Homo sapiens: one gene and its partner. The protein of the gene in region 1 interacts with the protein of each later gene in a biochemical or structural test. Each region holds a gene or a part of one and is shown on either strand. Other genes may lie near its edges.

Region 1 (7,284 bases):
GTGATCATTAAAAAGTCAGGAAACAACAGGTGCTGGAGAGGATGTGGAGAAATAGGAACACTTTTACACTGTTGGTGGGACTGTAAACTAGTTCAACCACTGTGGAAGTCGGTGTGGCGATTCCTCAGGGATCTAGAACTAGAAATACCATTTGACCTAGCCATCCCATTACTGGGTATATCCCCAAAGGATTATAAATCATGCTGTTATAAAGACACATGCACACGTATGTTTATAGCGGCACTATTCACAATAGCAAAGACTTGGAACCAACTTAAATGTCCAAAAACAATAGACTGAATTAAGAAAATGTGGCACATATACACCATGGAATACTATGCAGCCATAAATTATGATGAGTTCATGTCCTTTGTAGGGACATGGATGAAACTGGAAACCATCATTCTCAGCAAACTATTACAAGGACAAAAAACCAAACTGCATGTTCTCACTCACAGGTGGGAATTGAACAATGAGAACACATGGACACAGGAAGGGGAACATCACACACTGGGGACTCTTGTGGGGTGGGGGGACGGGGGAGGGATAGCATTAGGAGATGTACCTAATGTAAATGACGAGTTAATGGGTGCAGCAGACCAACATGGCACATGTATACATATGTAACAAACCTGCACGTTGTGCACTTGTACCCTAAAACTTAAAGTATAATAATAATAAAATTTAAAAAAAAGGATTCTAATCAAAACAAGCAGTTTTGTTGTGTTTTGTTTTTTGTCACACCAAGCTGACCATTTTTATTCCAAGCATTTAGAAAGAATCAATCTTGTACCAACAGAGAAATGCAAACCAAAACCACAATGAGATATCATCTCACACCAGTTAGAATGGCAATCTTTAAAAAGTCAGGAAACAACAGGTGCTGGAGAGGATGTGGAGAAATAGGAACACTTTTACACTGTTGGTGGGACTGTAAACTAGTTCAACCATTGTGGAAGTCAGTGTGGCAATTCCTCAGGGAACTAGAACTAGAAATACCATTTGACCCAGCCTTCCCATTACTGGGTATATACCCAAAGGATTATAAATTATGCTGCTATAAAGACGCATGCACACATGTGTTTATTGCGGCACTATTCACAATAGCAAAGACTTGGAACCAACCCAAATGTCCAACAATGATAGACTGGATTAAGAAAATGTGGCACATATACACCATGGAATACTATGCAGCCATAAAAAATGATGAGTTCGTGTCCTTTGTAGGGACATGGATGAAGCTGGAAACCATCATTCTCAGCAAACTATCGCAAGGACAAAAAACCAAACTGCATGTTCTCACTCACAGGTGGGAATTGAACAATGAGAACACATGGACACAGGAAGGGGAACATCACACACTGGGGACTCTTGTGGGGTAGGGGGACGGGGGAGGGATAGCATTAGGAGATATACCTAATGTAAATGACGAGTTAATGGGTGCAGCAGACCAACATGGGACATGTATCCATATGTAACAAACCTGCACATTGTGCACATGTACCCTAAAACTTAAAGTATAATAATAATAAAATTTTAAAAAAAGGATTCTAATCAAAACAAGCAGTTTTGTTTTGTTTTGTTTTTTGTCACACCTAGCTGACCATTTTTATTCCAAGCATTTAGAAAGAATCAATCCTGTACCAACAGACAAATGCAAACCAAAACCACAATGAGATATCGTCTCACACCAGTTAGAATGGCAATCTTTAAAAAGTCAGGAAACAACAGGTGCTGGAGAGGATGTGGAGAAATAGGAACACTTTTACACTGTTGGTGGGACTGTAAACTAGTTCAACCATTGTGGAAGTCAGTGTGGCGATTCCTCAGGGATGTAGAACTAGAAATACCATTTGACCCAGCCATCCCATTACTGGGTATATACCCAAAGGATTATAAATTATGCTGCTATAAAGACACATGCACACGTATGTTTATTGCGGCACTATTCACAATAGCAAAGACTTGGAACCACCCCAAATGTCCAACAATGATAGACTGGATTAAGAAAACGTGACACATATACACCATGGAATACTATGCAGCCATAAAAAAGGATGAGTTCATGTCCTTTGTAGGGACATGGATGAAATTGGAAATCATCATTCTCAGTAAACTATCACAAGAACAAAAAACCAAACACCACATATTCTCACTCATAGGTGGGTATTGAACAATGAGAACATATGGACACAGGAAGGGGAACATCACACTCTGGGGACTGTTGTGGGGTGGGGGGAGGGGGGAGGGATAGCATTGGGAGATATACCTAATGCTAGATGATGAGTTAGTGGGTGCAGCACACCAGCATGGCACATGTATACATATGTAACTAACCTGCACATTGTGCACATGTACCCTAAAACTTAAAGTATAATAATAAAAATAAAATAATTAGAAGATAATATTGCCAAAATTAAAAAAAAAAGAATATGACCCCTAGAGTTTTCTAAATAGTTGTCAGCATTTTAGTTAATTTCCTAAACTAATTTTTGCTTTTACAACCCAAACCTCAAAATCATCCATCCTACACTAATTTAATGTAATGAATAAGAACAACTGTAGGCATTTCAGTTCTAATCTGTACGGTATACAAAAATCTAAGATCTTTCCCCTTTGATACATGAAGGAATGGTATCCAAAGTTCATTCTCACTAATATATGAGGACATGCAGTTCCATCCTGCCTACGTAGTTAGATTCTTAACTGCTAAAAATAGGCAATGTAACTTTGTAAGGGCTACATTACATGTCCCCACTTTCCTCCTTTATCCTGCTTGTAAGTTTCCAAGGGTAATGGGTGGCTACCCACTTAATAACATTATTAAGACACGATGAGAGATTTGAACCTTCTCTGTCCCAGATTGTCATCTTGCCTAAAAATCTCAAGAATTTCTTAAAGTTTACCACCTGATTCTTTTTTCTGTTTAACAGTTCATAGCCTGCCTGCACTAGTACCATTGTTCAGCCATGCAATACAGTGGTAACTGCTCATAGCACCTGCACATCTATCATTGCTCAAGCTTCATGCTTCAAAGAGCTCTTTTCTTTGGCATTTTATCAGGAGGGTGATTTCAGTTTTGTGATTTCAGCATTTCACAAAGCAAGACAATTTCTCCCACCCAAGAGCCTACGTTTGCATTCACATCAAAACTAGAGTCCAGAGAGTTCATCATCTGAAATAACACTACAAGATTTTGTAAGCAGAGTGCCAAGGTAACAGTATTATATAGAAATAAGTACAGAAAATATATTATAGCAGCTGTTTCACTTATAAACATTTCTGTAGAGTATTTTAAGCTTTTCTTAAAATTTTTAAAATATGTTTATAAATCTTTCGCAAGAAGTTCTAAAGGCCCTCTGTATGTGAGTTAAAAGCTATCTGAAGTCTCTGTTCCATTTTCCACATGCATTTTAATTTTTGCATGTTTTTCTGAACTTTTTGCACTATGAAAATTGAAATTTATCTAAAAGGACTGATAGCCTTAGTAGGTTTTCAGCAATTGTCGGAAAACAATTTTGTGCATAGGGAGTTTGTAGTCAGTCTGTATAAAAGATTCAAATACAATATATGTTAACATTCTCAAAGATATTTTACTTGCTCTTAACATTTGCTTAGAATGAAATCTAATGCTTTCATGTGCCCCATGAAAATAATTATATTAGGCCGGGTGCAGTGTCTCACACCTGTAATCCCAGAATTTTGGGAGGCCGAGGTGGGTGGATCTACAAGGTCAGGAGTTTGAGACAAGCCTGGCCACTATGGTAACACCCTGTCTCTACTAAAAATACAAAAATTAGCCAGGCGTGGTGGCACGCTCCTGTAATCCCAGCTACTTGGGAGGCTGAGGCAGAAGAATTACTTGAACCCGGGAGGCAGAGGTTGCAGTGAGCCAAGATCGCACCACTGCACTCCAGCCTGGGTGACAAGAGTGAGACTCTGTCTCAAAAAAAAAAAAAGGTTATTTTTGGACTCATTCTCTTTTTAAATTTGTTTGCCTTGAAAGCAGAAATAGCAGTAAATTCCATGCTTATTTTACATACACATGTCCATCTTAAATGAAAACCAAATGATACTAGTAATAACTGACTAAAATCTTAGACATTACTTAACTGTCTGCGTCTTTCAGTTTCTTTTGTTTTATAGTCACTTTCACCTGTTCATTTAAAAAATTTCTGAGTACCCTTTATGTATGAAGTCCAGTCTAGGTGCCCGAAATATACAAATGAACAAAACAAACAGAAAATCCTTGCTCTTTTGTAGTCCAGCATCAGGAGACACAAAATAAAGAAAAAACATAACAAACTGAAGAGAAAGAGCAAGCTAAGAGGTTCTGGGAGGGCTGGAAGGGCAGACTGTGATTTTAAATTAATTGGTCAGAATAGCACTCAAAGAAAAAATGACAATTGTGCAACGGCTTGAAGGAGGTGAGGTACTTAAGCCCTGGGAATCATGGTTAGAAGAGTGTTCTAGGTAGAGGGAGGAGCCAGGGAAAATAATCTATGGCTGGAGCTTAACTACCCTGTTCAAGGAATAGTAGAATGCTCACAAATTCAACAATGAAAACATCAGTAGACTAATTTCATTTAGTCTAATATCCTCTGAGCCTACAGTTAGTAGGCATGTATTGAGTCATTCTTTATTACAATAAACTAGTACATTCTCATAAATATTATTTTAAATTTTATCTGCACATGTTCATACTCACCACATTTCAATGCATGCATTTTTATTAAAATTATACATTTCCTTTTTTTCATTACATTGTAAACTTCAGGATGAGGAATTGGTCCTCAACCACTATATTTTCAATGTTATTTTCTAGACTCAAGATATTCAACAGATGTTTTTATCTGTAAATAGAGGGTAAAAAGACAAGAAAGATCTTAGTTACATGAATCACAGTGGTCAGATCTTTGGGTTTTTGCCTCAATTTCCTAATGCGCAATTGAAAGACAATTAATTAATTGTTAAATACGTAAAATATTGCATAAATGTAAATTAAATCATTTGTTTTTCACAAATATATGAATTATGAATAGGAAATCTGAGAAATAAAATGCAGAAATACAAAAGCAGTTCTTCAGAAGAAAGCAATGTAATTTAAAGAACACTGGGAAAATCAAAAGATATTATGTGATGTGGCCAGTGATGACATTTTGTGAGCTGTTGACCTGGATTTTCAACTCTGATGGCCAATTTCCATCTGCTCAATGCTGGCCACCTGGATGGTACAGTGATTTGGCCCTTAGGGAAGAGTTACCTTCCACATTGATCCATTTCATGCTTTGCCTATTTCTAAAATCATGTCTCTCCTGACTAAACCTTGCCAACCTTCATCTGAATCCCTAATTTGCAGTCAAATGACAAGTCCATTTCATAAATACTGTATCTTCCTAGTTCTGAGGTGCCTCATAGGCCCTTTACATCAGAGCTTTCCCTGATTTGTTTTAATCTGACTGCAGGTAAGCTTCAAAATTGTTTAGCTTAAAGTATCTTATTTTAAACTTTTTACTATTTCCAAATTCCCAAAAGAGATATGAACATTGTTCATTGTACATTGCTATTTATTATTCATTCATCCTATATATATTTATCTCCAGCTATATATCAAGGACTGTGATAGATGCTGGGAGTAAAAAGATAATTAAGACATTCTGTCTTCAGGAATTTTAGGCCTAGTGGAAGAGAAATAACAGCTGACATTCTACTTTGATTAGAGCTGTCCAGGATATTATCATTCACAAGTATACAATCAAAGGAAATGGCTTATGCTTACCAAAGTCATAAAAGCTAATGCATAAAACAGTTGCATAAACCAATAATCTATTTGCAAATCTCAAGTTAGTATTTTCCTCACACTAACGTGAATATTTACACATAATCACTATTTGGGGAAATCTTCCCCAATATCAGATTATAAGAGAAACCAAATTAATATTCATAAGGTTACGTAGTGAGCAGGCTATTAAAGAAATCTAAATAGTCTTAAGCTATAGTCAGGCTATAGAAGAGTACTGACTTGAACAAACCCAGCCCTAGCAGCCTAGTAAACCTCCATAGTGACTTAACAGTTGATTTCCTGGAGATAATATCTCCACTATCGTACAATGCAGGCTACACAGCCACATCCTAGTTCCTATCTCTCTCTGTTCCAGGCTCTCTGGGTTTTTGTAAACACTGATTTTCTTCAGGCCAATCAAAATATATTTGTCCGTGTTTGAGTTAGCACTACCCATTCACTTAGATAGGTAGAAATGAATAGTGACATAGCATAATTTCTTGAGACTTACCTTAGGCAACTGTCCGTATATTGCTTCACCATTTTTTAATATATTGACTATTCCCTAGGCATGATGTGTATTTAACTGTATTGGCAGAAAAGCATGATTTGCAATAAGCTATTGGAACTATTATGAGTATTATATTTGTCAAAAATGACTTTTTTTCTTTATAGGTTGTCAAAATGATGATTATTGTTGTCATGACATTTGCTATCTGCTGGCTGCCCTATCATATTTACTTCATTCTCACTGCAATCTATCAACAACTAAATAGATGGAAATACATCCAGCAGGTCTACCTGGCTAGCTTTTGGCTGGCAATGAGCTCAACCATGTACAATCCCATCATCTACTGCTGTCTGAATAAAAGGTAAAAACAAAACTACGAAATGCAAGTTGCTTGTCACACCCACCTTCACTGGAAACATACAATGTTGTTCCATTTTCTTGGTTCAAATTCAAAATGCAGAAGGAAGGGAAAATTTAAGAATTCACTGAGAGAGGCACAGGCTTTATCTTTCAAGACCCCCATACACACTTTATAAAGCATCCCACATTAATAATTAGATGCCCCAAATAATGATCTTGGGGTTCTAACTGGATGATTCTTCTATGGGCCAACTTCTTCCTCCAAAATCTCAGAATTTTACCTGCCAAAGAAAAAGAAGTGCCCTCATGATTAAAGGAGAATTGAAAATATGCTCAAATCCTCAATGAAATGAAGTTACTTCCTAGAAATTCTTGAATAATTTCTATAAGATGGAGAGATGATGGCATATGTGAGCGGACTTTATTAAAAAGGATATGTTGTAAATAAATAAACTTTGAAGTAGAAGGTTTTGTAAAAACAATGGGAACTCCAATCCTCCTTCCTGCATTGTGAGGTGGGGTGAGTAAGAGAGCATGCAGCCTCTATGGAGATGGCTTGTGAAGAAATCACAGTGGTCAAGGGAAAGATGTTTATAAAGTTAAAAAATGAAAAGTGAGAATATTTGTAGTC
Region 2 (7,900 bases), on another chromosome or scaffold:
ATTACTTGTTCACCAGTCTACTAATCATGAATTTAGCATGCATTAAACATATGTACTTTATTAATATGTATTTTTTCATAAACTTATCCTAGGAAATAAAACAGGTAATAAAGAATGCAAATATCTCAACCTCTACAATGTTCAAAGGGAAAGTGTGCAAAACGTGCATGTCTTAGTAGGATCCCTAAGTTAGCAATTAATGAATGATGTGGGGAATGTGGGAAATGTATTCTTGGATATACCTTTTATCTCATTATTGTTTACTACTCAATTCTGTGAAATAACCTCTATTTTATGTACTATGGCACATTTACAACATACAGCATCTGAATAAAATTATACAACTGGTTATACAGAACTAGCAGTTTAGATATTATAAAGTAGCTGTCTTGTTACCTCATAAACCATAAACCACATTAGTATCTGAGAAATTAAAAAAATTTCTAAAATGTCCCACTTCAGGTATAGAATTTTACAAGATTTAGGGGGAAATTATCACATCGTTTCTTATATTAAAATAACAACAATAGCAATATAAGCCTAAACCAAAAACCTAAAAAGAAATGGTTACTAGACATAAGAGAGCAGAGAGATAGGGACTGAAGGTACACTTCTTTCAATACATAATGTTTTTTGTTTGTTTGTTTGTTTTTGAGACAGATTCTAGCTCTGTTGCCCAGGCTGAGTGCAGTGGCATCTTGGCTCGCTGCAAACTCCACCTCTCGCGTTCAAGCAATTAACCTGCCTCAGCCTCCCAAGTAGCTGGGATTACAGGCGCCCGCCATCACGCCCAGCTAATTTTTGTATTTTTAGTAGACACGGGGTTTCACTGTATTGGCCAGGCTGGTCTCAAACTCATCACCTTGTGATCCACCCACCCCGGCCTCCCAAAGTGCTGGGATTACAAGCGTGAGCCATCACGCCCGGCCACATAATGTTTTTAATATTTGAGTTTAGAACCATGTATTTTACATAATTCTAAACTTACTTTTAAAAAATGATCCCTATAACTTGAGCAGAATGAGAAAATGAATCTACCTGTGTAAGAGTTGGTAGCATAACCATACAAAGAACTTGTAAAGAGACTTTATAACACAGTAATATGACCGAACATACCTGGTGTGATATGCTCTAAAGATTAAAAAAGAACAAAACTGCAAACAAAAACTCTTAATCTGTTTCCAGTAATGATATTGTTGATCATATTGGCACCATGTATTGGGATAAAGCTAATGAATAATCATGTTGATGTCATTTGGAGTATGGAAAAAGAGATGCAAAAGGTTAATTAAAAACTCTATGAGATCCTGATTTGAAAAGAAAGTCGGTATACATTCATGATTATAGATACACACACACACACACACACAGAGAGACACACACACACACATTGTTCTCAGCTCTGTCTGCTGAAAAGGTCTTGAAGCAATGAAGAACTCACTAACAACGTGTAAAAATAAAGCCCAGTTTATGATCTCTAATGGTCATTTTCAATTCTAAAATTAGGGCCCCTTAAAGGCAGATTTCGGGTCAGAAGCAAAACGTATATAACTTTGACCCGAAACATTTTGTCATACCAAAAACAAGAAAAAGCCATCAAAGCCTATTGGCATAAAGTCTCAGGAGTCACTTTGAAGAGTCACCTGCAGGCCAAGAATAGGTCTGAACTTCAATTAGAAGAATGCCTGCCATGGATTGAAATATAGTTGGCCCCCTGTATCCATGGGTTCTGCATCTATAGATTTAACCAAACATAGGTCATAAATATTTAGAAAAAAATGCATCCGTGCTAAACACATACAGACTTTTTCCCTTTGTGTTATTCCCCACATAATACAGTATAACAACTATTTACACTGCCTTTATATTATATTAAGTATCATAAGTAATCTAGAGATTATTTAAAATATATGAGACGATGTGCATAGGTTATATTCAAATACCACACCATTTTGCATCAGGGACTTGAGCATCCACAGGTTTTGATACCTACAGGAGGTCCTACAGCCAATCCCCTATGCATACTGAGTGATGACTGTATGTCAAATGTGTTTAAATCCAGGAAGTCATAATAATCCTAATTTTTTAAAGTGGGTCTTATTAAAAGGTGTTAATTTACCAATTCATTATTTTCAAAATTGGTAGAGAGACATAATCAAGCATTTATCCCATCTTTCCTATATTAATAATGCTTTAGAATAACTAGTTGCTGAGAAACATGAAAGAAACAAGTCTGCCTACCAGACAAATAATGAATGATAAAATCAACATAGCACTGTTTTGAAAATACTAATGAATTAATAGATCTAGAAAATGATAGTCAATGGCTGCTAACAACTCAAAAGGAGAAACAACCACATATCATGTGCTTCCTACCAGAACAACACAACACATGTGAAGTAGTCTCATCAAAAAAAAAAAAAAAGAAAAAGAAAAGGAAAAAGAAAAAAATGTACAGAGGATCAAACTTCTAGATACAACTACCAATTAACAGGAAATAATCGAAACAGAGAAACAAGTTAAAAGGCAATCAGCAAAGTCCAGAATGCGGTACACTCTCCTGACCTGTCTTATCAATAAACTACAATAGAGAGAGAAAGAGAGAGCGAATTACAGATTCAGGGAGATTTAAGAAACATGCAGTAGAAGGAATGTTCGTGTCCCTCCAAAATGCATGTGTTGAAATCGTAACCCCTAAGGTTATGGTATTAGGAAGTGGGGTCTTTGGAAGATAATTAGATCATGATGGTGCAGCTCTTATGAATGAGATCAGTGCCCCGATAAAAGGGACTTTGAAGAGCTCTCTCATTCTTTCCTGCCATGTGAGGATATAACAAGGAGACAATATGACAGTCTGTAACCTGGAAGAGGGCCTTAAACACAACCAGACCATGCTGACACCACGATCTCAGACTTCCAACCTTCGAAACTGTGAGAAATAAATTTCTGTTGTTTACGTCACCCAGACCATGGTACTTTCTTACAGCAGCCTGAACTAACAAAACCAATTGTAATGTATGGACTTCATTATAATTCTGATTTCAAGTAGTAAACTGTGTGGGCCGGAATTAGGAAGCAATGAGAAATATTTGAATGCTAACTGGATATTTAATGTAAGGAATTATTTTATGTTGTTTTAGGTGGGATAATGGCGTGGATATGTTTTTATTTTTTTTAATTCCTACCTTTATACAGACATGCTGAAATATTTACAGTTGAAATGATTAACTGTCTGGGATTTTTTTCAAAATAATCTCAGTGCAGAGGAAACTGGAAGGGTTGTAGATGAAACTTGGAAGTGGATGTTTCTCTCTACTTTTGGATATGCTTATAATTTTCCATATAAAAGTTCTGAAAACGGAAAATAAAATGCTCACATTGTGAGGCTAAGGCCAAAAGAAATCAGAGATGCATGAGAATTTCCAAATTCAGGATTATTTAAGAACAACATAGAGAAAAAAATACTTCTGGTTTGAGTTGCAAAAATTTATTTCTTTTATGCAATATACTAAAAAATCATAATTAATTGAAAAATATAATACTTCATATGTAAAGGGGAGAAAACTACTCCACCAAAGATGTCACATCTTTTAATTCATTTGGAGATCAAAGAAATGTGTCTGCCAGGCAACCAAGGGCTCATGGAAAGGTGTGGTTTCTGTACAAATGCTATTTGTCTAATATTTTGTGCTGTTAATGACTGTCCCATTAGCATCTTCACTACACTTACTTTCATAGAAAGGAGAAACATGATTTATAGAGCCCTTTAGTGACAAGGGTGAGGATCCTACACACTATGTTGCTGGTTTCCTAGTCTTCAGCAAGAAAGTGTAGGAGAGAAGCAAAAAACGTCCTGTTCAACCCCTGCTCCTGGATGTGGCAAGGAAGAGGAGTTACCCGGCTTGAAACAAAAGAAATCCTAAGTCTGACACACAATGTCATGTTTAAATTCCCCTTTCTCCAAAATGTAAAATAAATCTGCTTCCATCTTCTAAAATACTATGGGACTAAACATCCTTTTGTTATGCTAAGGAAAAGCCAGTATTCGCGTTGATTTAGAAGAGGGATGTTCTGGTTATAGAACGATGCTGTGTCTCAGAAACACTTAAATACTATTAAGCTAGAAATAGAAGGGAAAATAATGCTTCCCCGCATCTCCCCTCAAGTGTAGTCCTCTTTTTTTAGCCTGATTTCCGACGAAATGTCTGAATGCCTACAGTTATTTGGCCATCCTGAAAAGTGCAACTTATCCTGACGTCTCGAGGGACGGAAAAGTTACCGAAGTCCAAGGAATGAGTCACTTTGCTCAAATTTGATGAGTAATATCAGGTGTCATGAAACCCAGTTTCGAAGGAGAGGGGAGGGGGCGTCAGATCTGCAGACGGAAGCAGGCCGCTCCGGATTGGATGGCGAGACCTCGATTTTCCTAAAATTGCGTCATTTAGAACCCAATTGGGTCCAGATGTTATGGGCATCGACGAGTTACCGTCTCGGAAACTCTCAATCACGCAAGCGAAAGGAGAGGAGGCGGCTAATTAAATATTGAGCAGAAAGTCGCGTGGGGAGAATGTCACGTGGGTCTGGAGGCTCAAGGAGGCTGGGATAAATACCGCAAGGCACTGAGCAGGCGAAAGAGCGCGCTCGGACCTCCTTCCCGGCGGCAGCTACCGAGAGTGCGGAGCGACCAGCGTGCGCTCGGAGGAACCAGAGAAACTCAGCACCCCGCGGGACTGTCCGTCGCAGTAAGTGCCCGCGCGGTGCTGGCCGCGGCTGCCCGGGTCACCCCGCCCCGCATCTGTCCGAGGTGGCCGCGCTGGGGGCGCCGCTGCGGCGAGGGACAGTGGGGAGACTGGCTTCCCAAACGCCAACGCCCCTCTTTGTCTTCCACCTGCAGAGTTTCCTGGTTTGAAGGTGTGGGTTGGTGGGTTAGGGGGCTGGGGGAGTTGGGATTCAGGGAGAAGAGGGTTGGAGAATCTTTGGGACGCGATTCTCTCGCCTAACCGGTACAGGTGAGACTTCAGTCCTTATGTTTTTGATCTTGGTTCATCCGTTGTGGGGCAGAAAATTCTGTTGCTTTAACTCTTGGATAACCACCCCTAATAGATACATTATTTCTCTCTTTGGTGTCTTCTCCTCCTACCCCTTCCCAGAAATCCAACATGAAAATCCTCGTGGCCTTGGCAGTCTTTTTTCTTGTCTCCACTCAGCTGTTTGCAGAAGAAATAGGAGCCAATGATGATCTGAATTACTGGTCCGACTGGTACGACAGCGACCAGATCAAGGTGAGGCCCCTTCCCAGGACGGCCCGCACCCTTCTTCCTGGGCTCGGGAGCTGTCACCTTCCCACGCAACAGCACCCTAGTTAACGTGGCACGCACCGCCACCACGGAAAGAGGCAGCGGTTGCGTGCGAGAGGATGGAAAGGGGCACTATTTCCCGGGTTCCCCACGGGATTTTGTGCCCACGATTCAAGTTTCTTCCCGAGGGCTGCACCGTCCGGCCCAGGAACTCCCTGCAGTAGGGATGCCCTCCCGGATGAGCCCGAGATCCTCACAAGGCGGGAAATCTCGTAAGATTTCATCCCCCAGGACCTGGGATTTCGGGGGCTCCGGTCCAGCTGCACTGCCCTAGCGTCTGGGCACGGGCAGAGGAGGGCGCCTGGGTCGCGGGCAGCAGCGGGCACACGCGCGAGCTGCAGGGGGATTGGAGGGCCGGAGGCTGGAGGGAAGTTAATTTCCTGCCTTCACGTTTGTTTTGCGGACCTGAGGATGTAGCTTGAAGTCTCCCTTTAGAAACTCGTAGGCTACAGGCGCTGGGGAGCGCGCCTCGGAAAAACGGTGAAAGTCGTCTGTAAAGCGTTGTCACCCTTCCCCACCGGAGCCCCAGCCCCAGATCCCACACACCTGTGTGCATTTAGGGCGGTGAGGACTCTACAAAGCCGGCACCGAGACAAGACAAAGTCAGGTGGCGGCGCAGCAGATGAGGGAAGGTCCCCGGGCTGGGAGGAAAGAGCGGAAAGCGCTCGAAGCTTGAAGACGCCGAGCCAGCTGCTAACTCGCCCTGGCAGGCTTGCGGGGGGCGGGACGCGAGTTCGGCGGGGAGGGGCGCAGAGAGGCAGCGCCTCGGGAGGGACCCCGCTCAGCCCGAGCGTGGGGAAGGCCGCCTCCCCACGCCTCGGGGCCGGAGTACAGCGGGGGGAAGGGCTCGGGTTGCTGGGTGCCTCGCTCTGGTTGCCTTACACGCCCTTTGTCCGTGCTTTTGTCTCCCAGGAGGAACTGCCGGAGCCCTTTGAGCATCTTCTGCAGAGAATCGCCCGGAGACCCAAGCCTCAGCAGTTCTTTGGATTAATGGGCAAACGGGATGCTGGTGAGATAGGCGACCGTCCCTAGGTGTCTTGGGCAGCCCGCCCTGTCTGCTCACTCCTTCCTGGAGTACCCCAGGGTCTCTCGCTCTGAATAGAGATTTCCACTCCAAGAGGGGTGTAATTCCCCAGGCGCGACATTGGCCCACACCGCACTAAGGCACGCACGGGCCCGCGGGGGGAGGGAAAGATCTGGTTCGCATGCCTCACTGTATTCGAGTGAAGCGCTCCCTTGACTAAAGATCCAAACTGACAAAGGGAAGGCACGGGCCTCCAGGGGTAGTACTGCGGATGATCCAAGTGCATGTGGAAGAGGATTTTATAGCATTCCCTGAGGTGAGAGTACATTTGTCTTGGGATAGAAATATCGTTTCCTTGAATTCATCGCACGGTCAGTGGAACATGTAGTTAATGACAATTCGTCTCTTGTCAGATTCCTCAATTGAAAAACAAGTGGCCCTGTTAAAGGCTCTTTATGGTAAACATTCCTATAAATCTTTATTTTACTATTGTGAAAGCACATGTAGGAAAGTGAAATAAAATCTTTTATGGGCTGAAATACAAGATCTGGGTCATGCCTGTTTAATAAAGAGATGGATTTGCGCACTCTCTCTCGGTTTCTCTCTCTCTCTGTCACTCTCTCTGTCTCTCTCTCTCTGTCACTCTCTCTCAGTCTCTCTCTCTCTCTTTCTCTCTCTCTCTCAGTGGGTGGCCAGCCTTGAAGGTGGGATGTGTTACAGTCTTATAGTTAATAAGAGGCCTCAGAAGTCTCATAGTCCTAGGTTTGAATCCCATAGAAGGCACTTAATAAAAATTCCATTTGTTTGTTTAAATATTTAGTTTTTATGATTAATAATTTGTTTAGCATTTATGGTTCTGCTTTATTCCTCAGGATAATATATAGATAGAAAATGTTACATATTTTGAGAATCAAATTATTTTATAAAAGATATAATGTAGCATCTTTAAAAACAAATCTATATGTGTTTGCTAATTTTATCTTTCTTCTAGGACATGGCCAGATCTCTCACAAAAGTAAGTTCAAAATTATTTTGACATTTATCAAATTTAAATGTAAAATTATATTGAATTTCACTTTATTTATCTTACCTTATTTTCTGTCATGACTCTAGGGCTTAATATGTTTAATGAAGACAATATAAGAATGGGGGAGATTCATATTACATCCAGAATATGGTTGTTTAGACATATTGTACTTAGCAAAGAGATGCATTATATTAAAAAAGAAAAAAATGTCTTTTAAGTCCCTTCAATTGTTAGTTTTAGAGAAGAATTTCAATCCTAGGATTAGAAATCTACCATACATATTTCTTCCCAGCCACCCACCCCCTAAGCTTACTTTCACTGTAAACAAACAAACAAACAAACACGAAACCCCCACAAGCATTTATAGGCATCTCCTAACTCATTTTAGTATGCTTGGTCCAATAATGATGTCATTTATTAGGGTCATCCAGCAGCCAATTAAATGGAATGAGTGAGTGAACATGAGTAGAGAATCCATACTAAAAATGAAGA

What was found.
Region 2: the proteins of TACR3 (region 1) and TAC1 form a complex in vitro, tested with the Homo sapiens proteins (one study listed by BioGRID).

The regions. Positions count from the first base shown.
Region 1 is NC_000004.12:103,590,857-103,598,140, reverse strand, and holds part of TACR3 (neuromedin-K receptor), read left to right. Parts: intron 1-4,708; exon of another isoform or gene 4,709-4,853; intron 4,854-6,457; coding exon 6,458-6,654; intron 6,655-6,697; exon of another isoform or gene 6,698-6,934; intron 6,935-7,284. UniProt on the Homo sapiens protein: This is a receptor for the tachykinin neuropeptide neuromedin-K (neurokinin B). It is associated with G proteins that activate a phosphatidylinositol-calcium second messenger system.
Region 2 is NC_000007.14:97,727,454-97,735,353, forward strand, and holds the start of TAC1 (protachykinin-1 isoform beta precursor), read left to right. Parts: upstream 1-4,632; 5' UTR 4,633-4,742; intron 4,743-5,150; 5' UTR 5,151-5,159; coding exon 5,160-5,282; intron 5,283-6,269; coding exon 6,270-6,366; intron 6,367-6,794; coding exon 6,795-6,839; intron 6,840-7,372; coding exon 7,373-7,396; intron 7,397-7,900. UniProt on the Homo sapiens protein: Tachykinins are active peptides which excite neurons, evoke behavioral responses, are potent vasodilators and secretagogues, and contract (directly or indirectly) many smooth muscles.